Linked DNA regions of Homo sapiens: all the other regions are linked to region 1. The links come from fine-mapping of genetic effects on gene expression. A gene starts in region 1. Each other region holds a variant in brackets. All regions are shown on one strand. Distances are between the middles of the regions.

Region 1 (5,000 bases):
GCCCCAACAGGACCTAATACACAATAGGTGCTTCATAAATGCTTGTTAAAGGTTTTTGTTTGTTTGTTTGTTTGTTTTTGAGGCAGAGTCTCACTCTGTCACCCAGGCTGGAGTGCAGTGGCACCATCTCGGCTTACTGCAACCTCCACCTCCCAGGTTCAAGCGATTCTCCTGCCTCAGCCTCCTAAGTAGCTGGGACTACAGGCACACGCCACCACGCCTGGCTAATTTTTTTTATTTTTAACAGAGGCGGGGTTTCACCATATTGGCCAGGCTGGCCTCGAACTCCTGACCTCATGATCCACCTGCCTTGGCCTCCCAAAGTGCTGGGATTACCGGCGTGAGCCACCGTGCCTGGCCGTAAAGGTTGTTAAACAGACCTGGAGGACAAAGGTTTTTAGTCACTTCACCTTTAGAAAACACTCTTATTTTCTCTGTTCATTTTGGCAACACCAACAACTGAAACCCTGCTTTTCTAAATATATTGCAGTTTGATTAATCTCAAAATAAGTCAGCTGGTTTTGCAGAGACACTGGCAGAACCATTTTGGGGTGAGAGGTGGCAACCTGGGTTTAAAAACTATTATAGGCCAGGCGCAGCGGCTCACGCCTGTAATGCCGGCACTTTGGGAGGCTGAAGCGGGTGGATCACCTGAGGTCAGGAGTTCGAGACCAGCCTGGCCAACATGGTGAGACTGAGACTTAAAAATACAAAAATTATCCAAGCATGGTGGCACGCACTTGTAGTCCCAGCTACTCAGGAGGCTGAGGCACGAGGATTGCTTGAATACAGGAGGCAGAGGTTGCAGTGAGCCAACATCACACCACTGCACTCCAGCCTGGGCAACAGAGCGAGACTCTGTCTTAAAAATAATAATAATTATTATTAAATAAATAAATATAAAAACTAATTACAGCTGCTTGAGCCACGAAAAAGAATGAAATCATGTCATTTGTAGCAACGTGGTTGTAACTGGAGGTCATTATGCTAAGTGAAATAAGCGAGGCACAGAAAGACAAATACTGAATGTTCTCAGTCATACATAGGAGCTAAAAAAGTTGATTTCTTGGACCTAGAGAATAGAATAATAGATACCAGAGACCAGGAAGGGTGGGTGGGGGGCAAGAGAATGAAGAGAGATTGGTTATGCGTACAAACATACAGTTAGATAGAAGAAATAAGTTCTGGTGTTTGATAGCAGCTTAGGGTGACTATACTATAATAGCAACAATACCGTGTACATTTCAAAGTTACCAGAAGAGAGGACTTGTAATGATACCAACACGTAAAAATGATAAACATTCAAGTCTATGGACACCCCAAATACCCTGTCTTGGTCAGTACACATTCTATGCATGAAACAAACACTCACATGTATTCCACAAATATGTAAATTATTATATACCAATAACAGAGAAGAAACTAATTATAATTGACCCATAAAGTCAAGGGTGAGTTGAGTCTATGGATCCTGGTTACAATAAACGTCTTCAAGCCTCTGTCCCCTTTGCTAATGTTTTCATAACCGAGTAACTCACTTCAGCCTCACAGCAGACCCATTTCCCAGACAAGAAAACTGAGACACAGAGAAAAGTGGCTTGAGGCTGTAACTTGATTTGTGAAAGAAGGCTAATTTTACCCATTTTTTCCATCGGCCATTCCTTATTCCTGCAAAACACTTGCGTTTGAGTCTGAAGACAGTTCACACATTGCACGGGACACCTGCAGTCACCTGCCTCCTTCCAAAGTTGGCTATGATCAGGTCTCCAAGACTCACCCTGAACCTCTGCCCTAGAGTGGTGCCACAAGAGGAAAAAGACTCTACCAACTTAACCTGAATTGCTTGCCGCTGGTGGAACTAAAGTGGGAGGCCCAAGCTTCCTCTACAGAGCCTCTCTCTCCTTAGAAAAAAAAAAAAAATCAACCAGGAAAGGCAAATTGTACAGATGCCACTAAAAAGAAATTCCCGCTTAGTATTGCTTCCTCTGCACCCAGCGACTTTTAGACAAGCAGAAGACGAAATGCCCTGCCCGCGACTAAACCAGACTCCTTTTCACTTACTACCCTTTCAGCGTGTGTGTGGCCTGATGTCCAACTCTGGGCTCTGAATCCATCACTAAACTAAGAACCGTACCCAACAAAGGACACTGACACATGGCACAGGCTGGCCGTGCTGCCAGGCAGAGATAGGACGGGTTCTATCTACACAGGGAGAACAAGAAGGCTGGAGTGGCCTTGCTAACGCGCCATTATCACTTGAAAAATATCCATGAGAGCCTATCTCCCCAGGCCACGCCGCCGCTCTTTCCCTTCCTTCGTAGACATATTTCTCTCCATGAATTAACAACATAAATTAAAAGAACCGAGCAGGTGTGACCATGAGACCACCGGCCTCCGTGAGTCTTTGAGAAAACAAGCCAAAGTCCCCTTCCAAATGACAGTGACAGCCCCCTAGCCGGGTGGCCCACCCCGCAGCCTGTAATAACACACCTACAAAACGCAGTTTAGCAGACTCAAAGGAAAGCCTCTAAGATCTCAATAGATTTGGACTATAATCCAAAAACCATCCCTCCCCAGCGCTATTGCTGACAGGACATAATTCAGAGACCCAGGTAGTTGGAACTCAATTTGACAGCAAATCTCTGGATGTAAAAAATATGAAACTGGCTTCAGCGAGTAGGGCAGAGTCCACCTGCTGCCTTCAGCTACAAGGTCGATGTGCCGCTATGCTAAGGCAGGGAGCCCACGGGGAGGCGAGGCGGGTGGGGTGTGCAAAGCTGCTCTTGCTCGCGTGCTGCCTACTGGCGCGGCCTGGGTGGCCCCCTCCTGACATCTCCCCGTCCACCCGAGCAGCCGCCCAGTACTCACTTCGCGGAAGCCCACAGAATAGGGCATGCCGGTCTTTCAGCAGGGGCCCGCCGAAGGGCCTTGGGGGCTTGAGGAGGAGCAGCTGGGGCTGGCGGACTCACCGCAGCCTCTGCGGGGCCTGTGACGTGCGGGCCAGGCCCCCGAGGGCCTTATCGGCCCCAGAGGCGCTTGCTGTCGGGCCGGGCGCTCCCGGCACGGGCGGGCGGAGGGGTGGCGCCCGCCTGGGGACCGCAGATTACAAGAGCACCTCCTCCCCCAACCCCAGGAGGCCCCGCTCCCCAGGCCTCGGCCGGCGCGGACCCCTGGTTGCCCCGGGGTCGAGAGCAGCCGGGGAGAGCTGAGTTCAGAGCCCAGAGTTGGACATCAGGCCACACGCTGAGAGGGTAGTAAATGAAAGGGAGTCCGGTTTAGTCGCGGGCAGGGCATCTCCTCTTCTGCTTGTCTAAAAGTCGCTGGGTGCAGGGGAAGCAATACTAAGCGGGAATTTCTTTTTAGTGGCATCTACACAATTTGCCTTTCCTGGTTTTTGTTTTGTTTTGTTTTGTTTCCTAAGGAGGGGGAGGCTCTGTAGAGGAAGCTTCGGCCCTGGGTGCCCCTGGGTTGGGAGCAGTCGGGGAGCGCTGAGCCAGGGCGCACGCCCTGTCGGCGCTGCGGGTGTGGGGCGCAGGAGTCCTTCTGGCCGGCCCCTCCGCCCCCCGGGGAGGCTGGAGCTCTCCAAGGCCGGGGAGCCTCCCGAAGCGCGCTGCCCCCTCTGTTCTCCGCGTGCTTTCACTAGGGCCCCATGCTGCTTAGTGGCCGATTTGCAGGGAATCTGGGCACAATCTTAATAACACCAGGGCCAAAAATAACAACGTTCCTGGGAACCGAGGTGAGTCACCGCAAACAGCGGCTAGGAGGGCGTGGGATGGCGCGGGCAGGGGGGCGCCCAGGCGGTCCCGCAGCTGCCAGAAGGTCGGGGCTGCCCACCAGCCAGGCTGGACCATCCCAGGCCAAGCTCCTGCAGGCCTGGCCTAGGAAGCCGCCTTTTGCAACGTCCGCCCGTCCAACAACGGGATGAGATGTCATCTGCCCAGAATGGCTTTATCAGTGAGAACACCATATCCTGGAATGGCAGTTGGTGGCTGGCAGAGGGAACAGGTGACCCCGAGGAGCTGAGCTGCGGGGCCAGGGGCATGGCAGCCTCCCTGGACCCTGGGGGTGGTGCCATTAAGGTGGGGGCTGTCTCCCTCCATGGTTTCCTCTAGGGGTGGGTGTCACCGCTGGGGGCCTCTGGTGCAGTCCTCCCTGAGAAGGGTCTCTCCAGCCTTCCTCACGTGATGCTTGGCCTCCTGCTGGGCCCACGCTGGTCCAGGTCCCCTGACGAGGCCGCCATCTGGCTTTAGAGCTTTCCCGCAGCACCAAACTGGCCTTGCCATGAGGGCACAGCTGCTGCGGAAAGATGCCACCGAGATCAGCTTCATGACCCGTCTGTGTTTTCCACAGCAGCTGGAGCGCACCCCATGGACGCTGGGCCATCTCCCCGGGGACTAGTGCCTGACAGAGCTGACAGAGTTCTAGGCCACATGTGGGCTAGAAGGAACCGCCATGTCTACCACAGCACAGTCCTTAAGCAGGAGCCTTTTGAAGCACTTGGACTCAAAACAATGGCTGTTTGTTGTTGTTGTTGTTGTTGTTTGTTTGTTTTGAGGGAGCCAGAAAGCTAAAAAATGTAAAAGAAGCAGGTCACATTAGACATGATTTCAGACAGCCTCCCCGAAGGACAGATGATCTCACTTGGCAACACATACTGGGCCAGGCTCACTCATGAGGGGGCAGCGTGGCATGCACCCCACTCAGGGGCAAGAATGAAGCTTAAATATTAGCTGACTCAGAACATAGCAAGTGCTCAGTAATGGCTTCTGGAACGAACCCGTGGTTGTCACCAGCAGGAGTGACGAAAGCTAGAAGCCGTTTCACCATCCAAGGAAGAGGAGGAACAATATTTTTCTCTTTGGAGTTCCCACACTCAGAAGAGAGAACACCAGCATATGAACACAGAGTGTCACATGATGTAGGAAACATCCTGTAGGTAGAGAGTATAATTCCAAAGCTTAGGATCCTGCTAGTTCCTTGTGCAGTGCTTCCGGTGGGCA
Region 2 (5,000 bases), 24 kb before region 1:
AGGGTTGAGGCTTTGAAAAACTTAGGCAGGCGATGAGTCAGGCAAGGCCCAAGAGGAGGAGAAAGAACACAACTACAAACATGTTGCTCAGTGAGGCCTGAGGCTAAAGGAGCTGAGATGATAAAGCTAAGGGAGAGAGCCCTTGAAACATAAATTCCAGCACTGCAGCCTGGAATGCCACATTGGAGCTAATTATATGGTGCCCAGTCCCAGGTGTGGTGGCCTGCCACCAGGACTGAATTCTAAATGTCTCCCAGGCAGAGACAGCTTGGTTCTCATGTTCCAAATTCCCAGTCCCTCTCCCTTGCTTTCCCCACCTACTCCTCTATGTGACTGGCACAGTGCCGGGCAGTGCTAAACACAGTGATTACTGACTGGTGTTAGAAGAATGATGTCCCCAACACTTCCATGAGTCATAAAGAAACTGTAAGTCTTGGGGTTCAATTGCTATGGAAAAGATTTAGATTCCACAGAAAGAACTTTCCAGCTATAAGAGATACGTGACTTAATAGAACTCTTTATTCAGAAAGGGTTTAATCTTTGCAGGAGATCCTTCAGGATGGCAGAAAAAAAAAACCTCAACATTTGATCTGGCATATAGACCACTGGGTAAGCTGTACGACTTGGAAGGGTCTCTTTGGGCCCTAGGGATTCAGAAAGCTAAACTATTGTTCTTTTCCCCATAACTGACTGTCCCCTCAACCTTCCATCACAACCACACCCTTAGACCACAAATAATCATCCTGCTTCTCCATCTGCATTTTGTTCATACTTCAAGGCTGCACGTTTTAACGTAGGCATTTAGTGTGCTAAGAACTTGCTAGTGAGATCAAAACAAACCACCAGAAAGGAATTGATGGGCTGAAGAAAAGGCTAAAGACTCTCGGCAGACACAGGCCACTGTTCTAGCCTGTAGCTTCATGGAGTCTTCAGGCTTTTCCCGTCTTGCTAAATATTTTACCTACTGTCTCCTTGCAGGTCTCTCTGCAGACAAGCATAATGAAAAGCTGGAGGCCTCGCCTGTGGGGTTCTGTCCTCTGGGCCACATGCAGCTATGCCAAGCAGGGATGATGTGGGAGAGAAGAAAGGGAAGAAATAGACTATGCAGCACTTAAACCCCCAGCTCGCTCCTGGCTTGATGCAGTGGGCTGTTCTCAGTATAGACAGGGACTCTGGGACACTTGATGGGCTGCTGCTGCTGTCAATTCCTGCAGGGATTTCACGAGCTGGAAGAACACAAGCCTGCAGCAAAGAATCCCATGCGAGTGGGATTCTCAGGCGACTCTGCCTCCCCAGGATGATTTGGGAGAACAGGTCCGGGCTGCTTCAAATGGTGGCCAGTCAGAGACATGAAGTGGCTCCTCTCTACAGGGACATCAGAGCTGAGATCAGGGCAGCCCCAGGATTCGAGAGAAGGGCATCCTGGCAGCTCAGGCCCTGTGGCAATGACCGTCGCGCTTAACCCTCCTATGCAATCAACTCAAACCCAGAACTCAATAGCAACAACACTATTTGCTTTCTGGACAGCCTCTTAAGAGGCTCTAAATCAGTAGGTCTCCCACAATTGAGCTGTGCAGCTTTTGATAAAGGAAATGACTTTTCTGAGCATTGATTTCTTCATCAGTAAAGTGAAAATAGCTTCACCCATCTCTCCAATATTGGGAGAATAATGTAAAATGCTGACCACCACTTCTGGCACATTTGGTAAGTGCTCTATCAATGACAGCTGATGCTCTTTTTTCCTCCTCCCCTCCATTTCTTCTCGACTAAAGCTTTTGTCAAAGGTTAATGTCTCCCCCAGAGGTGTGGGTTGTCACTGATCTTGCTTCAACACTGGAAAATCAAGGCCTCATCACTGCTTACCCAGGGTCAAACATCCATGGTCAAGATCAGGATCCCAAGAAATCTCAAAGCTCTACCCTGCACCCAGACCTCTTGGGCTTACAATGCACCCTTTTCAATGCCCATATTCTCTGCAGCAAAGAAACAATGTGTGGACTCAGTTGTGCCCCCACGCTCCCTGTCCGCAGCTGCCCTTGCAGTGTCCTGCTGCTGGCTGTGGCCAGCTGACCCGTTGGGCTCTCCTCCTGACCCTCCTTCCATCTGTTCCATCCTCACCCACCCAAGGAGCCGCCCCTGCTCCTAGAGACTCTGGGCACCACTGATAAGGGTGGGTACCAGGAACTCCACCCTTTACCGAGAAAGGCAGGCTGGTTTATCGCCACTCAGACCCAGCCAGCGACCACCCTGGGGAGTGTGTCAGCCACCAGGAGCATCGCTGTTGGGGAAATGTTATTAACTAGGAAGGAACTTTACAGAATGTTCCACACAAATGTCACATTGAATTCAATCAGAAATCCAGCCTGACCCCCCCTAAACCTGGTCATTCCTTCTTAACCTTAATGGCAGTGACAGAAGAAAGGGAGAGAGGAATGGAGTCTTGGTTGTTTTTCTATTTAACTTTGTGTAGGGAGTGCCCAGTGGTCAATTAAGGTGTCCTGGGCACCCGGCCTGGCTGGAGTAAGGGATGGCAAGTGCGGGGGTCTATTTAGGGAGGTGATCAGAGCCCGGATCAGGCCCCACAGAGTTGGCACCAATCTCCATCATGTTCTTTTTAAGAGGGTTGGCAGCCCTGGAGTCTATTTTTAAACCCATGAGAAAGGTGCTGTGTGGATTCCAAAAAGGGCCAACATTAAACCCGAGATCCCTGGAGGAGGGAGGGAAG[G/T]GGGGAGGCACAGCTGAACCTAGGATTTTCTCTTCACACACACAGGGGTTCCCCTTATTCCTGGGATCAGATATTGACTGTCCTTCCAAAGGGATCTCTTGGGTTACAGGCCCACTCTTTGGCATGGCTTTGGTGGAATTCGACTCCTAACGAGCTCGTGAGTTGGAAAGGGTTTTGCACACCGGGTCTCTTTTTCAGAATTGAGATTTTTTTAAATCCCTCTACCCCCAGTGTGAAAACTCCATGTGCTTTTGATATATCCGGCATCTCCCCCTTCTTCCTACTTTCAAATCACATGTTCTGGAACCCCCGCTCCCTCCTGCATGCACTGCAGAGCCCACAGCCGAGAATCTACAACAGGAAGATCCAAGGAAAGTCTAAGTTCCCCACGGCCACGGTGCCCAGCTCCCCAGAAACCCAGTCCCGGTGCTGGAGAAGGATGGGGAGTGGACCCAAGTGGCAAGCCTGCGGGGGACAGGATTATTTTCCCAATAGTGAGAAATAAACAGGCATCCAAACGCCACTGTTTCCCATCAAATAACCAGATGAAGCGAACAGAATGTTTTATGTACAATAACAAATTTCAGCTTCAGTATCTGTGTCTCTTTTTGGATAAGAAATAGAACCAGAATTCCTAAAGAACAAAATGCCTTGAGATTAAGCAAATGCTTCTGCTGAATAGTTCTGGGACCACCCAGGACCCCCTGGGCAGGGAAGTAGGAGACGAGGTCTCTTCTCATCTCCGCTCAACTCAGAATCCCCAAGCCTAGCACAGAAGCACCACTCAATACATGTTTCCTGAGCAGAACATGATGCAGTTTTGTGCCCCATGTCAACCAGGTAGGAGCTCCCACCAGTCATGCTGAAAACAACAGACATGAGTTTAAGCACAATGCTGGCCGCACAACAGAGGCTCCATAAACGTTAGCTGGATTGGAATCCAGTCAACTCAGATTTCTAAATGAATCAGATGTTCGGGGCTAGTTGACTAAATTGTCAATGTCCCCACGTGCTATTATAGCCCCTGTAGAAACAGCCTGGGGACCACTGTCCTCTTCTGGGCAGGGAAGTTTCAGGTGCTTCCCATCCCAGGGCCAGGGCCGTGCTGCAGAAAAAAGCCTCCACACCCCAACCTGCCCTGCCCATCCTTTCCCCACAATCTCCATTAGTCCTAAATTGCCAGTCCAAGCCCAAGAGAGCAATTGTTTCCTCAGTCCCAAGGCAGCGAAGCAGACAGCTCTTCAATAGTTCACATCTTTCTGCTGAGGGTGGGAAGATATTGGGGTGTCTTGTGGGTGCCTAAATAGAATTCCAAGTGCACCCGCATCACCAAGCACCCTGGCCCACGCCGCAGAGCATGCCACATTTCCCCACTGCGCAAGGAATGGGCTGCATTTAGAATTGACACTTCAGAACATATTGTGGACTGGGGAGCCGAGACTAGAGTGGAATTACACACATTTTGGAAAATGTGGATGAGCGGCACTGCCAGAATGGGCCCATTTACTAAACTACCTCCAGTGTTTCCAAACATTAGGGAAACCTTCCTCTGCGGCCTGCTGGTATGCGAGGAGGAGGAGCACATACTGGAGAAAATGCAAAATCAAAATCATTGGGAAGGTGCTAATAGGGAAAATAGGGACTCTTCTTTTTTTTTTCAAGTTGCCAAACAGGCTTAAGTACTGGCAGTGAACCCCATGGCTCCAGAGTTTCTGAAGGATGCCCAGGCGTTGGACAGCCCTGCATGGCACGCTCTTCCTCAGCAATGAAGAAAGATTCCCACCCTTCCTTAGAAATGCAACTTTGCCTGATATAAGCTGCCATCTGGAGCAGGCGGGGCCGACCAGGGGGTACCCTGAGACTCCTCCTTTATTTGAACAATTTGCCCCAAGGGACAGAGCCAGGATGGGTGGCCCATTGCCAGCCAGAGAGACCTGCCCAAGATTCCAGAGGGGCTTGTGACCCTGAAATTTGGGGTCTGTGCCCCTGGAGTTTGTCCAGCCTCTGGAGCAAGGCTTCCCTTACATGGAGAAGGTAGCCTTGAACCATCCATTGGGAACTAGGCCTGGAAGGCCCCGTCCACACCCTCTAGCCCATGATGATTCACCGCAGAGACAATGAGATACAGAAGTGAGAGCAGGAAGGGGGAACTGATTTGAAGATAATAATAATAAAGCTACAGTTAGCAGGGCATGGTGGCTTATGCCTGTAATCCCAGCACTTTGGGAGGTTGAGGCAAGAATATCACTTGAGGCCAGGAATTTGAGACCAGCCT
Region 3 (8,081 bases), 140 kb before region 1:
GTCCAAGCACTGCTGGATGGGAAGGAGGAGAGGGTGGAACTCAGCCTGCACTGAGCTGAGGCTACGAGTCCAGGGGTTAATGGCGACTGGGGGAGAGGGCGGAGGTGCAGGGTGCCCGGGAGGAGGCCCCTCCTCGTCCTCTGCCCCCCGGGGCCTGGCGGGTGCCGGGAGGTGGCTGGGGAGGACCCGTACTCACTGTTGCTGCACTGCCGCCCGCCTCGCCAGTCTTGGCCCGTGTCCGCCCAGCAGTTCCGGGTCCGGGTCGGGTACTCGTTCCCAGCCTTGGAAAAATTCCCTACCTGGGGGCTGTAGTAGACCCCCTGCGAGCTGAGCCCCCCAAAGCCTGCCACGTGGGGGTAGCCGGAGAGGAGGCTGTTGTTCGGCGCAGCCACGGGCCTGCTCAGGATGTCCGTGATCCCGTGGGGGGTTCCGGCGGCCAGCTGGGGGCCCAGCCCTGGGGGGCTGAGCTTGTAGAAGGAGTTCTGCACAGAGTACTGGCACACCGGGGCCTTCATCTCCGGAAACTGAGCCAGCGGCGTGTTGTTCAGCAGGAACGTCCCCTGCAGGTTGGACTCCATGATCTCCCAGTCAGGACAGGGAAGGCTTCTCCAGGCCCCTAAAACCCAAGAGCCCACTCTCTAGCCCCAAATCTCATGGCAGGCCTGGAGGCTTAGGACCGTCTCCGAGCTCCTGACTGCCTCCCACCTAAGGCATGGGCCAGGCCCTGGCCCAGGAACCGGCACCCGATCAGCTGCTCGGAAGTCAGGTGCTCGGGGCAGGTGGGAGGCCTCCCCAGGGCTCCTGGCCTCTCTCCTTGCCCTGGCCGGACAGGGTGGCCCCCTAAGCCTCAGCTCAGACCCCCTTTCTGCCTCTGAGTCGGGGGACCCTCCATGAGAAGTTTTAAGTTCAGAGAAGGAACATTTCCCTGATAAAGATACGGCCCATTAGAATACAGGCCGGAGACTGGCTGAGCCGCCGGAGCCGCGCCGCCATTGGTCGGGGCGCACACGGGCCTCACATTGGCTTTTCCTAGACAAATTGCACTTTGAAAGATTGACTGTACAATCAGCCAGGGTGTGTGTGTGTGTGTGTGCGCGCGCGCGCGCGCGCGCGCGTGTGTGTGTGTGTGTATGCGCGCGCGCGCGAGAGAGAGACAGAGAATTAGCTCTAGAAGCCCTACTCATCGCCGGAGGGTCCATTTGCTCCCCGCAAGTCTAGCATCTAGGAAAAGGTGAGCGTCTGGGGGCCCCTGGAGGCTCCCAAGGCAATTGGAAGTCACTGTTCCTACAGCTGCTCCCCTAGGGAAGAGGAGGCTGGACTCAGAGGCCACTGTCCGGAGCTGCGCCGGCCCCTTTATGTGCACATGTCCAAGCTCCACAGGAGAACGCAGCCGCTTCCTTCCCTTCCGCATGCGGGGATGGGGTAAGTGGCATAAGATGGGGGTAAGTGCGGGGATGGGGTAAGAGGCTGAGTGGCATTGCTTTCTGGGGGATGCAAGTCCCTGTGGCTGGCTTGAGAGCCTAGGGTGGGAGCCTGCTGGGAAGAGGGCAGCGCGGGGCGTAGGCAGCCCTGACAGTGCCGGGGTGTGAGTCCTCCAACTGCAGGAGGCTGAAGAGAGGGCCGCCCTGCACGCATGTTCTTGCCTCCACCTCTGGTCGGCCTTCCGTGACCTCCCTATCAGAATCTCTTCCTCATTTGTGCCTCTGCTGGAGCAATGGCCATGCTCTGTCTGGCGTGGTGCCCGGGTTTGAAATCCCTGATGGCTGAGAGGGTGGTGGAGCCCCGTGCCGGGCACTCCGTCGGTGCTCAGTTAGTAGTTGATGCAGTGGACTGGGCTGAATCACAGAACATGCATATGCTTTTTTTTTTCTCGAATAAATTTTTACAACATACAAGGCTCTATTGGGGGAAGCTCTCATTTTACAAACAGGAAAACCAAGGTATAGAGGAATTGGAGCCCACTTTCCAGGTACATGGGTGATTTCTGGACCAGGCAGGATTCTTCCCTGCAGTTTTTCTCTAAAACTGGAAACTAGCATGCCACTGGCCTGAACATGTAAAATGCTAGGAAAGACTGTGACTGCCAGACAGATGGACTTCTGCTCCTCTCTGTGCCTGGTGGCCCCAGAGCCCTTCCTGACCAGGCGTGGGCTCTGCAGGGCTTGCTCTCTCACTCCCCAGAGGCCGCCCTGGTAGGTGGGAGACTAGAGGCACTGCTTCACTGAGCTTCTCCTGGGTTTCCAGGCCGTCTTGGTTTTCAGTGGGGAGCAGAGGACCCAAGGCTCAGGGCAGGATTCCTTCTCATGCAGAAGTTGACCCTCTGTAGCACAGGGATTTAGGTTATGCAAGAAAGATCTCACAAAGGGTGTGGAATGATTCCCTACAAATTTGGTTTAAAGAGAAAAGAGCTACGTCTTCGTCTGAGATGGCTTTGCCACCAGGTCGCGTGCCACAGCCATCTGGTAGACCTGGTTCTGGTTCCCGGTGTCACCACCCAATTCCCCCCAGGCAACTGTGATTCTGAAACTGCATTTTTAAAAGCCCCATGGGTGCTGCAGATGACCTGCTGCGGTTGCCCACTGGCCTGAACGGCCTGTCCGATTCCAGGAGAGAGGCTGGGAGTGGGGTGGGGCTGGGGTGCTCCAGGGGCCTTGGGATTGTGACTCCGTCATCCCCTCATGATGGGAATTTATGTGGCAGGAAAGCCGCAGCCAATGATTTGATTCTTAATTAATGCCAAGCCTGACAAAGGCGTTGGTGTCTGGCGCCCCTAGGATGAGAAACTGAAGAGACTTTAGCAACCACCTAATCCATTCTCCCATTAGAGAGATGAGGAAACTGAGGTCAGCTTGGTGACCAGCCTTGCAGGAAGTGTTAGCAACTAGTTAGGAATAGGGCAATTTTTTCCCTACAGCAAGAACAAGTTCTTGAACTTTGAATGGCATTGAGTACTGGGGCCAGATGCCTTCCTAGGGAATGCTGGGGGGCCCCCTCAGTGCATGCCAGCTGGGGGCCTGGCCAAGAACCCTGGTGGGTTGTGGTGGCCCCTCCCCAGACCCCCAACTTCTCCCCATCTCATGGGAGCCATCAGGTGGAACAGAAAGCTACTCTGCCACCTCTCTGGAGGCATCTCTCAGGTGGGTGGTCCTGATTAAAGGGTTGTCCAGGCTTCTGGGAGGACTGGGCATTGGCGGGCTCTCTGGGACCTGAGCCCCACCCATAGACTCCTTCACATCACAACCCAGGCTTTACGCTGGCCTCAGCACCCCTAACCCCCCAAAGACGAGCGGGAAGGAGAGATAGAGCCCTGTGCCATTAGTCCATTTCTTTATTAATTTTGACATTGGTTCGGCTGGTGAAGGGAGAATGGTCTATACATCAGAGTAGGGTAGGGGATTCTCTCCCATAACAGAGCATGTGGGAGAGTCAAGAAAAGATCCATTTTCATAACAATTAAAAAAATCAAGGTAATTTCAAAACTTCTAAAAAGCGTCTAATGTGCAGACTGCAGCATTCTCTAGGCATCGTGTGGAGACCCCAAACTCCTCCCCTAACGGCTCCTACTAGCAGCCGGAGCGTGCAGCCATGCCAGCCGGAGCAGAGGTGCCAAAGCGGAGTCTGGAGCTGCGGGGTCCGCGGGGGCGCTAAGGGGGCTACTGGGTTGGCTGCAGCAGCGACCTGGGAGAGGAAGGTGCAGGATCGAGGCGGGAGAGGCGAGCCCTGAGCCCAGCTTCCTTGGGCCGTCACCGAATCGGTCCCAGCCGCGCTGTGCGGCCCCCCTGCCGTGGCCCCCGGGATGGGGGAGGATGGAGGGGGGCGCCTCTGCGCCCTGGAGGCCGGGCCGGGGTGGCCTCTGGCGGAGACGGCAGCCGTCCGGGCTCGCCCTGCAGCTCCTCCGACGCAGCCTCGGGGAAACTCAGGCCCGGAGCTAGAGCTTCCTCTCCCTGCCCGCCCCTCTAAAGGAAGCAAAAGCAGCCCCACCCCCGGCCGACAAGGCGCCTAGGCCGCCCCGGGGCCTGCCTGGCCGGGGGTGCACCGGGGCGGATTTGTGTGGGAAGCAGGGCCCCTCTCCGCTCACAGGCCCCGCGGCCAGGGGGCCTCTGACGTGGAGGGGGCTTCTGTGCTACTTGGAAGGTTTAAGTGTGTCCCGAGGACACTCCCGCAGAGCGGCGGGGCGGACGGGGCCGGGCCGTCCACACCGCGGCTCCAGGGGCGAGAGGAGCCAGCCCTGTCTCTCTCTCCTGGCCCTGGGGGCGCCCGCCGCGAGGGCGGGGCCGGGATTGTGCTGATTCTGGCCTCCCTGGGCCGGAGGCTCTAGTGGAACTTAAGGCTCCTCCCTGATGGCACCGAGGCGAGGAACTGCCAGCTGTCTGTCTCCTTCCTGCCTTGACCCAGAGCCTGGCCCCGGCCTCTGGGCGTCCAGGCTCTCCGCCTCCGACTCTACTCTCACCGGCCATGCGGTCCGGGGAGCCCCCTGGCTCGCCTCTCCAAGAGGCCACAGGGGCTGGGCAGAGGGGAGGCACTGAGGCAGGACAGGGAACAGCCTCGAGCCTGGCACCTGCACCCAGGGTCCCCAGCCTGCAGGCTGCCTGGACTTAGAGCACCAAGTTCACTCTGGGAGACCCTGGGTGGTCCTGACTTCTAAGACCTGGCAGATACATTCACTAGCCCTACTCCTTTCCTTCCTCTTTCACTGAAAGACAGGCCACAGCTCCTTCTCCTGCAGCCGCAGAAGTCCTCAGGAGCTGCGCTGTCAGGCTCTGTACGTACTGCTAAATGTTTCTATTGGTTTGCATAGTATTTATTGTTTTTCATATACACAAGGCTGATTACTGTACAGTTTACACTTTGAACACGGACTATGATATAGTGCTTGAAGACATAGAAAACCTCTTCTCTATGGACATGCTGGTGCAATCCTGGGTCAGCCACCGGCCTGTCCCCCAACTGAGAGAGGAGACCCTTTCAGATGGGGTCCTGGCTCCCTTTGAGTCCTACAGGTAAGCCTGGGGGTCCTCGCCTCAGATTCTTAAGTCCCTAACACAAGGAACCCCGAATGCACTCTTCAAGGTAATGATTTTCCATTGGAAGATGATTCGTATTGAAATTGGCAGAGAGAGAGACAACATAAAAAATTCCAATTTATCCACAGCAGAGTCTATACAGCTTCAGAAGTCACAGTAAAATCTGTGTGTAGATTCAGTGGAGGCGAGT[GGT/G]GTGTGTGTGTGTGTGTGTGTGTCCTGAATGTCATGTAGAGCGATCTGGGAGGAGCGTCACCAGGGAGTCGAGGGGGTGTCACAAGTGGAATGGAGGTATGTGGGTTGGGGAGGGTGGGCAGATGAGGACATGGCTTAAGATTAAGGTGTTAAACTGATTTCATGCCTAGTTTTCTTTTTTTTTTTTTTCTTTCCAGGAAGCCCACATGGATTTCTGACAGATGAGGTTGGGAAAAAGTACCCTGTACGAAGTCAAAACAATTTAAAAAAAAAACCCCAAAACCAAAACCCATCCCCAGCCACAAAAAGCCCTCATTCACTTTTGCGTTCGCAGGCTCTCCTGCGCTTGTTTTCTATCCCTCTCTCTCCCCGCTTCTTGCTGCTTTTGTGTCCTGGTTCCGACAGATCAGCTGTCATTGCAAGAGGCAGGATTGAAGCCTGGAGGTCATGCGTCTACAGTCAGTCATTCATGCCAAGAGGGGACTAGCAGGAGTCCCTTACAGAGGTCATGCCGTCAGCCCAGAGGAATGTGTGCACCGCTGCGGTGGCCCTCAGGTCCAGCTCTCCTCCTGTGTGCATGGCAGAGTGTGTGGGGTTCAGGGGTTGGGTGTCGAGGTGTGATCCTGGGAGACACAAAGAGAGAAGGAGTCACTTAGAATGCAAAAGTGCAACGTCCAGCAAAAACCCCACACACAGAGTTTTGTGCTGGCAGCTCAGGCCGAATCTGACTCAGGAAAAGCAGTCTCCCCAGGCAGGGCGATGTGCTGAGGGTGCTGCACTTGCAGCCCGACTTCCTGAGATGCCGCCCTCCTTCTCTTGCTCCCTATGCAGAGGCTGTTCCTCAGAGCCGCCACCCAGGCCTCATGAATTCCTTCTGAGTGTGCAAGTGTTCCAGGATGCCTCTCTGTATGGGCCAAGGAGAGCACTGTGCTCTGTGCCCTTGGAGAGGGGCAGAGGCCCCCGTGCCTACGTGGTCACCTGGGGAGACATCCCCCAGCAGATCCTTGTACTTAGGAAGAGCCATTTTTCTTGAGCCAGGGCTTGTGCCAAGAAGGGGCTAGGTGAGGCTAGGTGAGGCCTTCACTTTCTCAGTTCAGCTCTGCCAACATGCACTGATGTCCGCCATGCGCCAGCCTTGGGAACCCAGGGATGGAGCGGATGTGCTCCCTGGCCTTGGGAGCTCATGCCTCAAGGGTGACAGCTCCCCTTCAGCTCTGGCCCACAGCACTTCCTGACCGCTGCCTCTGGCTGCTCTCCCCATGCCCCTCAGATGGACAGAGATCTCTGAAAAGCAGATGCATCCTCCTCTCCTCCTCCTGTATTGAGTCTTAGGCTGGAAAAGAGCAGCTTTGCTGGAGGAACTAAGCCCACATTCTTCAGCCTGGGATTCGCAGTGAGAAACCTCTCCTGCCCCCATGGGGCCTCCAGCCTCCAACCTGGGGTGAAAACTCCATGTTTTCAAGACCAGCCACTCATGTTCTATCTGCAGGGGCCCTGGGACCACTGGGGAAAGGAGGATGCTTCAATAAGGAGGAGGTGACAATCTCTTGGGCAGGGTGGGAAGTGACACAGGGAGGCAGGAGCTCATTCGGAGGTGGAGCCATCCCCAGACATAGAGCTGTTTTGGGTCCTCCAGGTGAAGGGGTTGGGGAGGAGTGTTGGAAGGGAGTAGGGAGAACTCAGCTCTTGGGTGGTTCCCCAGGGATGGGAGGGTGGTGCCAGGTTCCTTGCCAGGGGCTGCTGTAGAACTGTAAAGCCAGGAACTGCTGCTGCAGTGGGTGGACAGTGCTGCCACCGTAGAGGGAAGATGCTTTCATCACTGCTGGGCCATCACATCGGCCAAGTCTGACTGTCTCCTCTAAGCCTCTGAACACGCTCTACCCTCCTGTTCTCTGCCTTCGGTCACGCTTCTGTCAAGGCTGCCTTCCATTCTCTTTTCTGCAGAGGTTCTGCCTGCCGCCCTCAACACCTCCACCCCACAAAACCTTCCTGATCCTTCCTGGAGCAGGCCCCTCTCCACTCTGGAAGCTCTCCCTTTTGTATTTTGTAAAAATACAAAATACAAAAAAGAAAAAAGCTGCCTTTTCTGTTCAGGAGATGGCAGAGTCGAGTGGGTAAGAGCATGAACTCTGGAGCCAGACCACCCGGGTTCAAGTCCCATGCTGCCTGACCTCGGTCAAGTGCCTTACCTGCTCTGTGAGTCAGTTTTCTCTGCTGTAAAATGAGGGCAGTAATAGGGCCTACCCATTAGAGAGGTGTGATGTTTAAAAAAGCTAAGACACATAGGTGCTTAGCATTGTATGAATGCAAACAATTACTTGGCTCTCTAGAAATGTTACCGTCTCTGTCCATCTGTGCTTTTTGATGTCTGCATATTTCCCTGACTAGATTAGAAACACTGAGGGCAAGAACAGCCTCCTGGTGCTCCCCACGGTGCCTGCCCCAAGAAGTGCTCCTCAAATAAGAGACCATCATGGAATATGCAGCCTGGGAAAGACAGGCTAGGATCTCCCATCTACTTTACCGCCCAGGCACTGAGCAGAAGAGAAAGTTCAGACCTCAGAGATCATGCTGGCATGACTGCCCATTTCATCCCTTGGTAAACTGAGACTCTAGAGGCACAGTGGCAAGAGCAGGGGTGAGATGAGGACCTAGGCCACCTCACTCTGCCCAGGACTCCTGCATTGTTCTGGCCTCTTCTCCTGGGTCCCCTCACCTTTCAAAAGCTTAGAAAAGAGTCTCTTTCATTCTTTATTTTTATTTCATTTAGAGACAGAGTCTTGCCCTGTTGCCCAGGCTAGCGTGCAGTGGTATAATCATAGCTCACTGCAGCCTTGAACTCCTGGGCTCAAGCGATCCTCCCAC
Region 4 (5,000 bases), 130 kb before region 1:
CGAGATCCTGCCTCAGCTCCTCCTCTATTTTACCCATAGCTAGCACCGTGCCCCACACTTGACAGGCAAGGTCATGTCTCTGAGTTAATATCTGCTACCAATCCAATGCATTTTCACTTCCTTTTAATTATTTAATTATTGTGATGGGGTCTCACTCTGTCACCCAGGCTGGAGTGCAGTGGCTCAATCATAGCTTATGCAGACTTGAACTGCTGGGTTTAAGTGATCCTTCTGCCTCAGCTTCCTGAGTAGCTGTGACTACAGGCATGCGCCACCATGCCTGGCTAATTTTGTGTGTGTGTGTGTCTCTCTCTCTCTCTCTGTGTGTGTGTGTGTGTGTGTGTGTGTATTTATTTATTTTTTAAAATTTTTTTTAGAGATGGAGTCTTGCCATATTGCCCAGGCTGGTCTAAATGTCTGGGCTCAAGCGATCCTCCTGCCTTGGCCTCCCAAAGTGCTGGGATCACAGGTGTGAGCCAGCACACCCGGCCCACATTCTTTTTATTTGAGGAGGCCCATGGTAGGCCAGGGATGCTCAAACTGCTTGTTTAACAGCTGTTTTCAGGGTTAGGCATCATGGGACTAGGTCTGGGATGTTTCCTGGGGGCTGGCCCTTCTGGAAAAGAGCAGCAGAAGCTATTCAGGTTGACTCAGACAAAGCGGTTGTGAGGACACCATGACTGGACTGCAGATGACCAAAGCTCCCAGCTCCTGGGCCCTCCATCCCTCCTGAGCACGGGGGCAGCCAGCCTGGCTGTGCTCACCTGCTGTGAGGGCAGCAGGGAGAAGCCACTGGCTTCTACCACCTTTTAGCTTCTAGCCCACCTGCCTCTCCCCAGCACAGAGGGGAACACTCTGCACCCACCTTCTTGGTGACAATGTTGCCCTGCTCATCCGTGAATTGCTCCTCTGTCACCTGCTCCCCTGGAATATTCTGAAACTCATTCCCCTGGAATTAGAGAAAGGGAGAAAATGCAAGATTGGTGAGTGGGAGTCTGGGAGGAAGGGTGGAGGACGAGGAAATGAAACAGCAGTAGCCACAATAGCCATGGCCCAATAACTCCCCCAGCAGGAAACCCGGCTCAGCATGTAGCAGGAGCCATGCCAGGGCTCCCAGGGCGTGGGCGGCGCCCCTGAGGGTCTGGGAGGCCTGAAGACGAACGGTCGAGCTCACAATTGTGCACTTGGCCCTCACAACACCCCCTGGGAACCTGCAAAATGGGGGCAATTATGCAAGTCTGACGGAGGAGGCCCTGAGAGAGGAAGTGAGGCACCTGTTTCCTATTTTTACAGCACTTTGCAGTATAGAAAAGCCCTTCGACAGGCAGCATCACCCAGAATGTGACTTGCTTGAAACCCCAGAGCCAGTTGGTGACAGAAACAGGACGATCCGGGTGCAATCCCATGGTGGCTCACGCCTGCTATCCCAGCACTTTGGGAGGCCAAGGCCGGAGGACCACTTGAGCCCAGGAGTTCAAGACCAATTTGGGCAACATAGCGAGCCCCCATCTCTACAAAAATTTTTTTAAAATAGCCAGGCATGGTGGTGTGTGCCTGTAGTACCAGCTACTCAGAAGGCTGAGGCAGGAGGATCACTTGAGCCCAGGAATTTACAGTAAGCCCAGGTTACAGTGAGCCATGAGCATGCCACTGCACTCCAGCCTGGACTAAACAGCAAGACTTCATCTCTAAAAACAAAAGAAAAAAGAGAAGAGAAGAGAGAGAAAGAAGAAAGAAACAAAGAAAGAAACAGGATGAGCGCAGCCTCCCGAGACCCAAAGCTGAGTGTTTAATGTCACTGTCACAATGCACTGGGCACCAGAGGGCAGGTTCTGGTGGGCGCACACACACTCTGGCTCCCAGGGTGGAACATGATCCCTGGGGGCCTCCTGGTCCTTTTCCTCCGGCGTCTCCCAACTCTGGGTCCGGAGCTCCCCACAGCAGCGTCCCCTCAGCCCCGGCCTCCGGCGCCCACACCACCAGCCCTGCCGGCCTCCTGCCAGGCGGTTACCTTCAGGAAGACCCGCCGCCGGACCACCCTGGTGGAGATGGTCTCCTCGTCGTCACTGAGGCCCTCGCTCTCCCCCAGCTCCTTGTCCAGCTCCTGGTGGATGTGCTTTAGCACAAAGCACAGGGACCCCCTGACAATGTGCATCACGTTCTGACAGCTGACCAGGAAGAAGCTCAGCAGCACCAGCGTGACCAACAGCTGGGTGACGAAAGTCCACATCCTCGCCTCCTCACCAGCCCGGTCCTCTGGCAGCCAGGGCCCCGGCCACCACGGGGGGCCTGCCTCTCATTCTCCACTGGGACTCCTGAGTCCCCCAGGGACCCCTTGCATTCCCCCTCCCTATCTCTCTGGTTTGCTCTCTTGGTCTCTCACTGTTTCTCTCTCTGTGGGCAGGACACCGAATGGCCCTCTCGGCTGAAGCAGCCCGGCCCAAGTGCCCTTCTGCCCAGCAGCCAGGCTCTGCCCTGAGTGGCCCGGGTGACATCACGCTCCTATAATTTTACCTCCCCAAACCAGCTGCCGGAGCTGTCCAACCGG[G/T]CTAGAAGGAAGCCGGCAGGTGCCCATGTCCTGAGCACTGAAAGCACAAGTGAAAGTCACTGTGTGAGTGACACCCGCTGCTGCCTAACCCCGCCCTGCCCAGAGACCTGGAAGTGGGGGCTCGGCCTCTCACCTATCCTGCCCATCCCCATGGGAACTAGAAAGAGTTCTGCCCAGGGAAAGTTTCTTACTTTCAGAAAATAATACAGTCCGAGAAAGCAGCTACTTGTGTGTCTCCTTGGGCTGCTACTGCGGTGATCCAAATGCTGTTCCCCGGCATGGTAGGGATGAGACCAGCTAATACCCTGGGTACTTAGCGGTCTGTTTCAAAAATTGCTCCAAAAGGGTGAGTGATGGGCTCAGGGACAGTCAAGTGAGCCCAGCAGGGGCCCAGCACAGGTGGTGGGGCCACCTGGAAGCCGGTCTGTAATTCCTGTCAGCCCACAGGCCCTTGCACCCTTCCTTTATGGGGTACAGCCTCCCAAAACTGAAGCATGGAGCTGGTGTGTCTATTTAAGGCCTGTTCTTAAAGGCTCTTCCAGGGCTGGGCTATCAACGCCCACTGAGCAGGAACAACGCGTATTAAACTTGTATTTACAGAGCTGATTCACAAATGTAGCCGCAGCAGCTGCGGCTGGAAAAAATTTCACTTTCTAGATCAGGTTGTTCCTCTCTGAGTGGCAATGCAGCATGGCAGAAAGAACACAGATCTGGGACACAGCAGACTAACCCTGCAACTCACCTACTGTGGGGTCTTGGGAAGGCTGGGGACCTTCTCTGTGCCTCAGTTTCCTCATCTGTGAAGCACGGATTAAAGTGCTCTCCCCACCCTTTCTCAAGGCTGCTGGGACAATCATGCCGCTTATGAATGCTAACACTATGAATGATAATGGCAAACGCTTGTGATAGTGCATGGTTCTATGTGGATTTCGCATTAATTCACTGACACCTCACCACAGTCCTAACCAAGGAGGTTCTATCGTCTTCCCATTTTACACAAAGGAAACAGAAGCAAAGTATTCTGCCTAGGTGGAGGAGTAAGTAAACGGAGGAGTCACATTCCAAATGCCTCTCACTCCACAATGCTGCTTATTTCAACAAGAAAGCACGGGGAAAAGTATGTGCAAAGAAGCCGGGGAAGCATCTGGTTTTGGCCCAGTCAAGAAGAGTCCAACTTCAGATATTTCCTCCTAAGTCCTCAGAGAAATCAGCTGGGTCACAGTCATTTCAGGCCACCTCCCAAGTCCCAAGTTACATGCAATCTCTCTATCTCCATCACTGTTTTCAGAGGTCCAGTGGAAATACTAATAAGTGGGTGCTTTGCAAACCATCAATCACCTTCAAGGGCATCCTTATCAGCCCTCGGGGCCTGTGAGATGGGCACCGGCAGCAGCCTGCCAGGCCCTCTGATCGGCGTCTCCAGTTCCAGGCTGGGCATGCTGGCCTTGCACGTGCATGCTGGACGTGAGGATGTAGGGCTTGGGAACTGAGGGATCTGGACCCTCCTGGTCCCTGACATTGGTCCACTGTGTGACCCTGGAGAAAGCCCTTGGCTCCTCTGGTCCACAGTGCCCTCATTTATAATTGAGGGAGTTGGATGTGTGATCTAGAAGGCCCTTCCAGTTCCCCTCACCAAAGGCTGACCACAGAGGGGCAGTGGAAAAAAGTGCTGTAGGCGTCTTTCTCTTTCCCCAGGGATTCAGGAGAAGAGACCCAGTTAAGATCATGTGTGCTCTGGGAGCAGGAGAACTAGGCGCCCAGGAGGGCCTGATGGAAGAAACGGACGGGCCGCCTGTGGTGAGGAGTGCACACAGGCGCTGGCCCTGCCCGGGGCACATACTTGGCAGGGGAGCATTCTAAATAAAACCTGACTGAATTCCTAGCAGTTCTATGGCTGGCAGCTCAGGGCCTTCCTTCCAGAGCCACCCTAGTCCTGGAGTCTAAGGTTGAGGTAGGAAAGAAGGGAGACAAGGAAAGAAAGAGAGGAAGGAGAGGAGAGGAGGAAGCACCATGCCTGGATGAGGCGTGAAAACAGAGACAGAACATGTCGTTCATGTACATACTAAACACACGCATGTGGAGAACAGTGGTGCATGTTTTATAAGAACACAAATGGAAAAGACACCCATTAATACGATGGCCAGGATATGCTTCCAAATAATAGTCAGTGGGAGAAAGTGGGGGGTGCAGATGAAACAAGATTGGCCACGAGTAGATCATCATGGGGCCTGGGAATGGGGAAGGGGGATTGAATCGAACAAAATAAAGTTCAACAAACTCGAAGGGAATCCGGGGAAGTGGAAGAAAGGAGGGAGGGCCAGGAGAGGGAGAGGCCTGGGAAATCAGGAGCAGGAGAGGAGACTTCTCTCTATCCCAGGGCCCCTCTTCTACTTGGTGACCGCCATCCAGAGTCCACGTGAATAGCCACAGAATTCCAGAGCCAAGTAACTTT

Direction of the effects. Positions count from the first base shown, and alleles are read on the strand shown. Sizes are in standard deviations (SD) of each study's normalised expression. Not every link is listed here.
For the expression in esophagus mucosa of the gene that starts at base 2,979 in region 1, allele G in region 4 goes with a lower level than allele T (large effect, 1.8 SD a copy in GTEx).

What was found.
Region 2: its variant is fine-mapped to the expression of ANK1 in tibial artery (GTEx, PIP above 0.99). The same link has a PIP of 0.9 or more in aorta and gastroesophageal junction.
Region 3: its variant is fine-mapped to the expression of ANK1 in whole blood (INTERVAL, PIP above 0.99).
Region 4: its variant is fine-mapped to the expression of ANK1 in esophagus mucosa (GTEx, PIP above 0.99). The same link has a PIP of 0.9 or more in nasal epithelium.

Annotation. Positions count from the first base shown.
Region 1 is chr8:41,794,644-41,799,643 of GRCh38, forward strand. ANK1 (ankyrin 1) reads right to left here and starts at 2,979. Exons shown (of 43, transcript NM_000037.4): 1 at 2,869-2,979. The coding sequence starts at 2,895. It overlaps LOC105379392 (a long non-coding RNA gene), which reads left to right and starts at 3,135. Exons shown (of 3, transcript XR_949708.3): 1 at 3,135-3,736; 2 at 4,351-5,000. RefSeq lists an enhancer at 4,052-5,000.
Region 2 is chr8:41,770,689-41,775,688 of GRCh38, forward strand. All of the region lies in intron 1 of ANK1 (ankyrin 1), which reads right to left. Among named protein-coding and RNA genes, the nearest start is that of ANK1, 24 kb to the right of the region's middle. The variant G/T (reference allele first, on the strand shown) is at 2,726.
Region 3 is chr8:41,649,915-41,657,995 of GRCh38, forward strand. ANK1 (ankyrin 1) reads right to left here. Exons shown (of 43, transcript NM_000037.4): 43 at 3,311-5,839. It overlaps NKX6-3 (NK6 homeobox 3), which reads right to left and starts at 903. Exons shown (of 3, transcript NM_001364841.2): 1 at 197-903. The coding sequence starts at 578. RefSeq lists enhancers at 3,420-4,213, 6,040-6,573 and silencers at 3,741-3,790, 3,811-3,880, 3,901-4,240. The variant GGT/G (reference allele first, on the strand shown) is at 5,215.
Region 4 is chr8:41,662,794-41,667,793 of GRCh38, forward strand. It overlaps ANK1 (ankyrin 1), which reads right to left. Exons shown (of 43, transcript NM_000037.4): 40 at 866-949. Among named protein-coding and RNA genes, the nearest start is that of MIR486-1, 4.8 kb to the left of the region's middle. The variant G/T (reference allele first, on the strand shown) is at 2,549.